Regions from separate parts of the Homo sapiens genome. Here region 2 is linked to region 1. The links come from fine-mapping of genetic effects on gene expression. Tissue or cell type: tibial nerve. Region 1 holds a variant in brackets; the other region holds the start of a gene. All regions are shown on one strand. Distances are from middle to middle.

Region 1 (5,394 bases):
AAAATGACTACTTGCCAATGAAAGACTATGTGAGTGAAATTTGCGGATGAGGAAATGAAGATGAAAACTTGTAGCTATTTATTTTAGTGGGGTTGGCGTGAGTGAGAATTATTTGGTGAAAGAATGAAACATTTCATGTCCAAGACTTGGCCTGGTCTAAGTCCAAAGAATTAGAAGATGGCCTTCAGTTCTTAGCATTTAAAATTCCAGAAGTGGATGGAGATATTATGTGAGGCTAAACACAAAGTAATGGGATCAGAAAAAACAAAACGAAACAAAATCCAAATAAACATGTTTAAGTACCACTTGCTTGTGGTTATACAGTGTCTGATAACATGAGATAAGATTTGTAACTGTGTGTATTTTGCTACCTTTTGTTGAAGTATATACAGAAAAGTATACAGAATATAATTTTATTGCCTAATACATTTCACAAACTAAGCACCTTCAAAAACCAATGTCTAGATCTAGGAAGGAAACATTACTCACACTCCCATTAAGAAACAGAAACATACCTGCACATCCCCAAGCTAGAAGTACTCCTAGTTAGTGCCTAACCCATCACTAACTCTAAAGAGGGCAAGCCCTATCTGATTTTGTAATTAAAATGAATGCTGCTATTCATTCATATCATGAAGGTTTGCATAGCAATCACTTTTAGAGTGATCTAAACAATAATAAAACAAGCTAATCATGTGAAGGCTGTATAAAAACGTTTCAGTCACATGACCAAGCTTCAGAAGAGACTCTAGGGTTTGCGCATGTTCAGGAAATTAAGGACAAAGAAAACAGACCCGGGTGAATTAAGGGGATGAGATACGAGAGAAACAGAGATGTGTCTAGAGGTCAGGCCACCTAGCACTTTATGGGCCAAGCAAAGACTTCCTGAGATTCATGTTAAGAACTCTGCCTCTGGGCTCATTCTATTATTTTGAGCGGGGTGGTAATGGAGGGGTTTTTTTATGATATTGTCTCTTAAACTTTTTTTCTTAACATATCAATATATTTGGCATACAGAGGAAATTGAAAGCTGATGAAATCGCTATGTTATTTTAAAGGTTCCTTTTTTCTCTTCCTTTGCCTATGACTTTTTAAAAGATAGGACTTATTGCATTCTCTTTTATCTATTCTCATTTTTATTTATTTGGGTTTATTTTGTAGATTTAGAGAAACAGAGGTAGTGTTCTCAAGCATCATGCCCCCCTCTTACTATGAAGGTTCCAGTTATTTTTTGAATGAGAAATAAATATATGAATCAAAACCATCTAAATCATTATTGCCTCCCTGTGAATTTTTCAATGGTTAATTTCAAAATAAGTTATATAATTGAACATATTTTTCTAAATGCAGACACACCTCTTACTGCTGAAAAAGCCAAAAAAAAAAAAAAAAAAAAAAGAATTTTCTAGCCAACAAATGTCAAAGTATGCTGAAACAGAAGTTGAGGTTAACTAGGTTATTTCTTGGGCAAATTTCTACATAAAAACTGAATTAAGGAGAGGAAAAGTGTTGCGATAAGAAAAATGGATGTTGACAATTGGCATGAAAACACACAAAGCCACTGCAGGGGAGAAGCAGAAGCTGTGTCAAATTTACTTTCATGTTTGTATTTGTTTACATAAATCCAAGGAAAGAGATAGCGCATGTTTCACTAGAACTCTCACCTTTGTGGTCTGCACAATAATTAACTAGTGTGAAAAGTAGGAAAAATATGTGTGTATGTAATCAATAAAAACTATATTACTGCGGTGGGAGTTTATAGGAGACAAAAAAATGTGAAGCTCAACCTATCCATTACTTTCTAAACTTAACAACTCTAATAAGCAACAGGAGAAAGGTAGAGAGTTGGACAGTTTGATTTGCTTATGTTGTAACAATAAAATATAACAGCATTGAGTTTTTACTCTATAAAATATTACAAATATATGCCTGACCACATTACTGCATCAGATTTCTCTTAACCAATACATGAGCTCTTCCCAGTCTCTGATCATCTTTCTATACCCAATGCTAGCCTAGATTTAGAGAGAAAGACAGGAGCTGAATGAAATGTCAAGGAGGCCAAGGCAGCTAGCAATGTCAGGGCAGAGTACAAGAGAGGAGAGGGCCTTACAGAGAGAGCTCTGGAGAGCAACAGAGTACTCCCCCAGGTCTTCCGTTGAGAACTGGTCAGCAGGATTGCTCAGCAAATTGGTTGTTTCTAAACCACTCTCTTAACCACTGTGAGGTTAACCCACAGAAATACAGAGCAGAGCTAAGGTCTTTCATCTGCATTTAGATACTCTAGTCCCTCTTTTTATTTCCCGATTAAGTAAGCATTATTATGAATTACTTTTCACCAGTTCAGATTTTAAACTTGCTATCTTTTAGAAGAAACCTCCAGCACCCGGTGTTCATCAGAGGGTCACTGGAACCCAGAAAATTAGACCTTCTCTTTTTCATCAGTGCTGCACAATGAATAAAATAGAAATAGAGTATATAGGCAGACCCATCCACACTAGACTAGCCTTTTTTGTCATCTAGTAAAACTCTGTGTCCTCAAATATATTAAAAATAAGCATAGAATTGCATAGCTACATCATCAGTTTATTAATAAATTTAAAAAAACAAATCATTTACTTTAAATTTTCACTATTGATATCTCTTGTAAATGAAGAGTAAAACCAGACGGTTTTTTTTTTTATTTTAAGGACAATTATATCGAATAATCAGAGAGTCAAAAAAGATTTCATAGAAAGAACAACAAACAGATTTGAAAAGACTGGCTTATAGTAAAAGTTTTGCCAAATTCTATCATCGGAGTCATAATTTCTCTTGTTTGAAATTCCTCACTTGTAAAAAATACGCGTGCAAGAATAATCTAAAAGATTCAGCATTATAATCTCATGAGTTTTAAGCTATCTGAAACAATTTTCAAGAGACAAATCTAACATGTAGTCTCAGAGTTTTCAGTATTTACTTTCACCAGATACCTTATTTTAAAAATGTTCTTATTTCTTGACCTTTTCCTTCAGATAAATTGTATTAGATTAACACAAATCATTTTATTGAAAAATGTCTACAACTACTCCAAACTTAGACATTGATCTAAAGGAAAAATGAATTTGGAATCATTTAAGATATTTTACAAACTTACCATTTAGTTTTGTCTTTTTCTCGACTTCTAAATTATCTGACTTTCTGGAAACCACATCTGTCAGTTTTATAAACATAGGAAGGAAGACTTTTATTATGATTAGGCAGTTACGCCTTCCCCATGAGGTAATCTCAAAAAACATCTACTCTCATGAAAGTAAAAGTTCAAAGAGATCTGGA[A/T]AATTTTCTGATAAACATCCTCTGTATTTCATGTTTTAATCATGATGCAGCTTTTATGCTTGGTAATTATTCAGACAATTCTAATGACAGAATCACGGGTTTGTATAATACAGAGATAAATAAAAGTTTTCACAGATTAGCCCATGAACCACCCCCCCAACAGGAAAACATTCAGATTTGTTCCACCCTATGAAAATGCATGCAGGCATCATCAACTCTTCCAGCCTACGCAAGCCATGAATATTCCAGCAAGGAGATGTAAAGCCCTCCTCTCCCCCAGTAGCCCATTTACCACACAATCACATATGTGTGAATAATAATATAATCTCTTAAACTCTATCCCATCAATATCTTTAAACACTTTGAATCTAAGATTAGAAAGTCCTGAGATTTTCACTTACAGTGAAAATGTCTTCTTACTAAATAACACAAATCCATCTACTTTTAGAGGATTAAAAAAAAAAGTTTGCTGTTTTTTTAAGAGATTTCTACTATATTCTTTTAAAATTTCTATTTTCTTCTTTCATTATTTACCTGTTTCTTCCCTAAAATTCCTTCCCATTGACAATTTCTTTCTTAAAATATCAACGTAAGAACGTACACGTAGAGTAAGAGGGTGAACCAATCCATGTCTGGGGGCCCAAACTCTGTTCATTAATTTATATCTGAGGGCAAACTTCCCTCAGGCCAAAGGCATTAACCTTGGGTGAGACCTTAACACCTTTCTACTCCCTTCACCTGGCATGCCTTCTTTTGCCACCACTGCTGGTAGTGAGGCCAACAGGGCTCAATTTTGGACCTGAAGTTGGAAGGATCCCCTGCTAACTTTTTGAAGCGTGAGGCAGATATAATATCAACAATCTGTGGGACACTATTGAAGAATGCAATATTGTAAATGACAATTAAACACTCAACTTAGCCTGCAAATATCCATCTAGCTAATAGTGGTACTTAAAGGTGAGAACATAAGACATTTAAATAGGCTTTACCTCTACTGAGTAATAACATGAATTTCAAGGTCTGGCAGGCTTGGTTTCAAATAAGGATTCTTTCTGGTTTTCTGACTTCAGGCAAGACACTAAATATCTATAAGTCTTGGCTCCTAATTTATGAAATGAGTGTAACAACTGTATCCTCTTCACTGGGAGGGATAAATGAGATAATGTATGTTGAACATATAATATTTAGCATAACTTCTCAGAAAATGCTAGTTATTAGTATCACTATTTATAGGTACATGAAGTTCAGTTCATGAAGTCAGATAGTGTGTCCCCAGTAGTAAAGAGGACACAGAGCATTACACATAGTATGTGCTTCATAGGTATGTGCTGAATTTAAATGACTGTATTCTAATCACTGTTTCTTAAATTATTGTCATGAAAATTCTATTTCATATTCAAAATAAACTTACAAATCAAACTCTGATTTCCAATTTATGAATACACTGCGTAGACTATGGTATTTTCATGTTTCCTTAATATTCTGATAGGACATCAACATTACAAAATACTATCTATGTATGCGTATGTCCCTTCAACCACACACTTGTTTTGTTACAAGATCAATCAGTGGTATGGAGAATAAAAGTTTGGTGTTTCACATGAAGAACATATAATAACATTAAAAAGCAAGAAATAAAGAATGGGTAGAAAGAAATACTTCTCTGCATAAAGCTGAATTAGTGCCTGTAACTAGTTCCCAAAATAAATTATTGAAGCAAATAGTTTACTGTGATTCCAAAAAGCATTAGGCTTAATGAGGCAAAAGTTTGAAAGCGGCTTGCAAATTTACACCTATGGATTTTTCAAAGGAAAATAAGATTTGCCTAAGAAAGTGCTTATTTTGGCAGGCAGAGAAAACAGTGGTGAAAAATTATGGGTTTGTCTCAAAAGCTAAGTTGATTTTGCCTTTTTAAACTGGCTTCAATTAGTTCCATATTTTAAATTTGGTACTGGAAACAAGCTGAGACATTGGTGGACAGAAATAGAAATGGCCACTGCTCTGTAAGCAAAGAACCAGAAATTTCGAATAAATTCTGAGATGATATAAATCTCAGAATTCTCAAATGAATAAATTCTC
Region 2 (5,394 bases), 30 kb after region 1:
TGATCTCCATCTCCTGACCTGGTGATCTGCCTGCCTCAGCCTCCCAAAGGGCTGGGATTACAGGCGTGAGCCACTACACCCGACAATCTCTGTCTCTTAAAAAAAAATTGGAGCTCAACTCTTCAACAAGGACATAAAAACATAAAATCTTTATAACAGACAGGGAAATAACTTTCCTGCAGACTCAAAAATTTGGCAAGTGAAATAGGGCTTACATTAAAAATAATGGAGGCCAATGAACACAAACGTCAATTTATTATATTCTTTCTTCTTTATCACATGTAAATACTTATTTCTTAAATCAACATCTATTTCCTGCAAGATACTTGGCTAGGCAAAAGATTTTTAATGAGCAAAATGACATCAATTTTCCAAAGAAACAGATGAAGAAAACAATATTTTCCATGACACGTCACAACTTCTGCAACAAAAGAGGACACAGGAGATAGATGAGAACAAGGACTCAAGTGGCCCACTTGAGACAGAGAGGAGTTTTGAAGCTACTGAGAAGAGTTTTACACTAACTTTCTTAAATAATGCTTAGGAATTGCCAGTGGGTCAGCTGGGCTGTGAACTTCAGGCCAGGGAAGGTCACAGGCAAACACATACAGTAGGGGCTCCAACCCCTGGGCCACAGACGGGTATCAGTCTGAGGCCTGTTGAGAACTGGGCTTCACATCAGGAGGTGAGCGGCTAGCAAGTGGACAAAGCTTCATCTATATTTACAGCCACTCTCCATCACTGGCATTACCTCCTGAGCTCTAACTCCTGTCAGATCAGCAGCAGCACTGGATTCTATTAAGAGCAAATACAAACCCTATTTGAAGTGCACATGTGAGGGAGCTAGGTTGCGAGCTCCTTATGAGAATCTAGTGCCTGATGATCTGTCACTATCTCCCATCACCCCCGGATGTGACCATCTGATTGCAGGAAAACAAGTTCAGGGCTCCCACTGATTCTACTTCACGGTGAATTGCATAATTATTTCACTATATATTACAATGTAATAGAAATAAAGTGCTCAACAAATGTAATGCACTTGAATCATCCTGAAACAATTTCCCCCCACCCCAGTCTATGGAAAAATTGTCTTCTACAAACCCAGTCACTGGTGCCAAAAAGGTTGGGGACCACTGACACAGAGGCATGAGAAGGCAGATTGTCCAGGATCACTCAAGTGTAGTGGAAGAATTTAAACAGAGTAATCCAGAGGGCAAATAGAAGTTCAGGTTCAGGCCCCTAATGGTCCACCGCAGAATACAGTGACAGCTTACTAAGGCAGTGACAACTGGGACGGAAAGGAGAGAATACATGAGATGTTTAGAAGGTAGAATTAACACAAATTGTTGAAATTGAGCAATGGTGAAAATAAACCCTCACCCGTAATTCAGGACTCGCTCATATTAACTATGAATACATTCATGAAGAAAATTGAATAATGTATTTGAAATAACTGTGCCATCAGGACATATGGCTACTGTAAACCAAAAATTACCTCTGACTTAAATGGCCACTAATTATGTGGCACAACTTCTTTTTCAAGAACTGAGAAGGGATGAAAACACACACGCACACACACACACACACACACAAGCAAATTACAATGAAAAGAGGTACATGTTGGGGTGGAAGGAACAGTAAAATCCTTTGAACCATTCAAATACCTACATGATTTTATAAACCACCTTCCCGTATACTATTTGGTGAATTATCATTAAAAATCTCAAGCAAATCAGGCAGGAACATCATGAAAAAGTCAAATGATTGCAGGTAAAGAAAATTGTTTTAAATAAATGTAGCTTCACTAAACAAAATCTGCTTAATAATTTTGGCTGAAAGCTGCAGATAATATGTAGCAATAGGAGCAGGGAACTTAACATCTCTGCCAAGCAAAAAGAAACAATTCAGCAAGCAACAGTGAACTGATATGCACTAAATAAACAACCAGGCAGAAACACCGCTGTGAGAAAGAGCTTTTTATATAGCTAAGCCAAGCTGGATGGCTTAGAGTTGGAGAAAGAAGTGCTAAATATGTAACAGCCTGGGGCCTCGCTGGACCCAAATAATAGTTATTTCTGAGTAGGTCAAGCAAAAGTCAATAAAAAGGAAAGCAGGAATGGCTGTTGGGTTCATAATAGGACAATAATGCCCTTCTGGGAAAAATGTGAGTTTCAAATAGCCAGAATCGAATACTTAAGTTTCAAATGCTTTATCATAGACCACCAGTTCTGGAAATATCAGTAGAATAGCTAGAAAATAGGTAAATTCTGCCAACCAGAATAATCCCTAATACAGATTCCCTAAGCCAGTGTTTTTAACATGAGTAGAAGAATCACCTGCAATGGAATTACAAGGAAGCTTATTTAGTGGAAATTCCTGGATACCAGCTCAGACTTACCACATCAGAATTTCTAAGGAAGAGGCCTGGTAATTTAATTTTTAATTAAATTTTCAAAAGATTCTTCTGTCTTCTAACACCAGAGAACTTTTATTTTTGCGTATTTTGCATTTTGCTTTGCTTTCAAATGCCATCGTTCACAGATTAGATTCGTCAGAGAGAGAAAGGGAGATAGAAAGGGAGGGAGGGAGATCCGATAGATATATAGCCAATTTCTGGCCCAATTTTTCTTTTGCAGCAAGCAAAGGCTAAAGTAACACTCTGTAACACTTTATAACACTTTATAACACTCTATAAAGCACTAATTAGAAAACAGGTTATTCTGAGATAAAAGAACGTACAGCGAACAATTACTTTATAATCAAGTGTCAGATTGTATGGAGCAGAACATGCCCACTGTATTAGTCTGTTCTCACACTGCTACAAAGATACTACCTGAGACTGGGCAATTTATAAAGAAAAGAGGTGTATTTGTCCGTTTTCACGCTGCTGATAAAGACATAACCCAGACTAGGCACTTTACAAAGGAAAGAAGTTTAATGGAGAACTCACAGTTCCACGTGGCTTAGGAAGCTTCACAATCATGGCAGAAGGCAAAGAGGAGCAAGTCACATCTTACGTGGACAGCGGCCAGAAAGAAAAAAAGAGCTTGTGCAGGCAAACTCCTGTTTATAAAGCCATCAGATTTTGTGAGCTTAGGAACAGCATAGGAAAGACCCTCCCACCGCGTCCCTCCCACAACACGTGGGAATTCAAGATGAGATTTCGGTGGGGACACAGCCAAACCACATCAAGAGGTTTAATTGACTCACAGTTCCGCATGGCTGGGAGGCTTCAGGAAACTTCCAATCATGGCAGAAGGCTAAGGGGAAGCAAGTCACATCTTAAATAGTGGCAGGAGAGAGACAGAGTGAAGAAGGAAGAGCCACTTTTAAAACCATCAGTTCTCCTGAGAACTCACTATCAAGAGAACAGCATAGGGGAACCACCCCCAGGATCCAATCACCTCCCATCAGGTTCCTTCCTTGATACATGGGGATTACAGTTCAAGATGAAAGCCTAACCATATCACCCACAAAGGTGAATCAGAAGCTGGACTTCTCTGTGATTTCTTCCATTCTTCAGTATTCCTGAATCCCTTCCAGTAAAGTTTCTATACAACAATCTATCAGTAAGGCATTATCATTTAACAAACCTTTTAAAAATTATACAGGAAAACATTTGTTGAAGAATTTGGGATAGTATCATCTATAAAAATTTACTTAAGATGATTTTTTTTCCTTTGCTGGTAGGAGAGAAAGCAAGATAATAAATGCACTTAGTAGAATATCATAGTAAACAAATTGTTTAAAGATATATACTTTACTCTCCCGTAAGACTATGCATCTCTTGTACAGACATCCTGGTGAGAAAGTGGAACCCTAAATGGAACACTGAGCTTCAGGCATTTTTATTGGACCTCCGAGGAAAGGTACAGGCAAGTGGGGTCAGGTGTCTGGGATGATTGCAGTTGTCAGTTAAACTCTTGATATAGTTTGGCTGTGTCCCCACCGAAATCTCATCTTGAATTCCCACATGTTGTGGGAGGGACCCGGTGGGAGGTAACTGAATCATGGCGGCAGGTCTTTCTTGTGCTGTTCTCATGATAGTAAGTCTCACAAGATCTGATGGTTTTAAAAACAGAATTTATAAACTTGTGAATATATGGGTATGATGCAAACCCTAAAATCATAAATTCATCTAATAATTGTGATATCTATCTCTATAAGGCATGTATTGAGGGTGAAATTGAACCTGAAGATTTGTTAAATGAAACTATGAAATAAGTTTGTAAAGACATATGCATACTTCACCAACCTGCTCAAATTTAGATCGGCAAACCCTTTCCTCTTGATGGGAATGAATGAATGAAATCTGAATTATGGTCTGCTATTTCTTCTACCAAAAGCCATAAGCTTGAGCCAATAGGTGTGTAATAATTTTCAATGCTATTATTAACAGTGTTTATTTAGTTAATGCTCCTGATGAAATAACAATTTTTGATCTAGATTCTTTAGAGAGTGTTATTTAGAAATTAAGTTTCAAAATTCAAAAATTATTTTAAAAAAGAGTAAACTAGCAGACTCATCTCTTAAATATTAGAGTCACTTCTACATCCCAAACTCTAACCACCCAGCCAAATTTATTACTAATGGGTAGGTACAGAGGGTGTTTAAGAAAAAGATATAGATTACAGCTTTGCTTTATTCTATTTGAAAATTACTCAGCTTTGTGCCCAGCTGAACTCACTAAATTTCAGCTGTACCCAACATAGAATGTGAGGTGGATTCAGTTCTGTCCCACAGCTGACCAGCAACTACAGAAAGATTGAAGCCACTGACCTCAGGGTATGACTATAACCTCGGGGACAATAAGTAAGCAGGTAGTCCCCAGGTTGGGGCCAGACTTAAATGCTCCCATCAGAACTTCCTTGAAGAGCATAAATGTCCTATTAGTATATTTTATTTCTTTGAGATTTGTTATAGTGAAACTTTAGTAGCAAAAACATTCAAAAATATTTATGACTTAGAAAATACTTTGACTCACATTTTCCTCACCAATTTGGTTGTAATTTGGATAAAATATGAAACAGTCCCTTTTTACTTCTAAAGAAAAAAGAATGGAGAATTTTCCACAAAGAGTTACCAGTGATAACCACCTTTGTGAATTAACTATAAAAAAGAAATACCAACATTATGAGTCCTGGGCAGACTATTCATCCTTCTTTTCCATCACTTTATCTCTCTAAGAAAAAAAACACAGTTACAGGTTAACTAGGAAAATCTATAATTTAAAAAAACCTTTTTTTTTTTTTTTTGTAGAGCTTTGTATCAAAGAGCAATTGCATTCCACCTATGTACCACAGTAATACTGGTCAACATCTGTTTTTTCCACATATCTCCTAAAAAGTTATGTGTAGTCTTCCTAAAAATTGTCTAACAAGCAGTACTGAAATA

Direction of the effects. Alleles are on the strand shown, and positions count from the first base shown. SD is a standard deviation of normalised expression in the study named.
For the expression in tibial nerve of the gene that starts at base 3,258 in region 2, allele A in region 1 goes with a higher level than allele T (moderate effect, 0.64 SD a copy in GTEx).

The links. PIP is the estimated chance that this variant, and not a neighbour inherited with it, causes the effect. A credible set is the group of variants that fine-mapping cannot tell apart.
Region 2: LINC02147 starts here. The variant in region 1 is the best candidate, but not a certain one, in a credible set for the expression of LINC02147 in tibial nerve (GTEx, PIP 0.71).

What each region holds. Positions count from the first base shown.
Region 1 is chr5:117,758,155-117,763,548 of GRCh38, reverse strand. The region is part of intron 1 of LINC02147 (long intergenic non-protein coding RNA 2147); the gene reads right to left. Among named protein-coding and RNA genes, the nearest start is that of LINC02147, 30 kb to the right of the region's middle. The variant A/T (reference allele first, on the strand shown) is at 3,316.
Region 2 is chr5:117,728,225-117,733,618 of GRCh38, reverse strand. It overlaps LINC02147 (long intergenic non-protein coding RNA 2147), which reads right to left and starts at 3,258. Exons shown (of 3, transcript NR_104997.1): 1 at 3,211-3,258.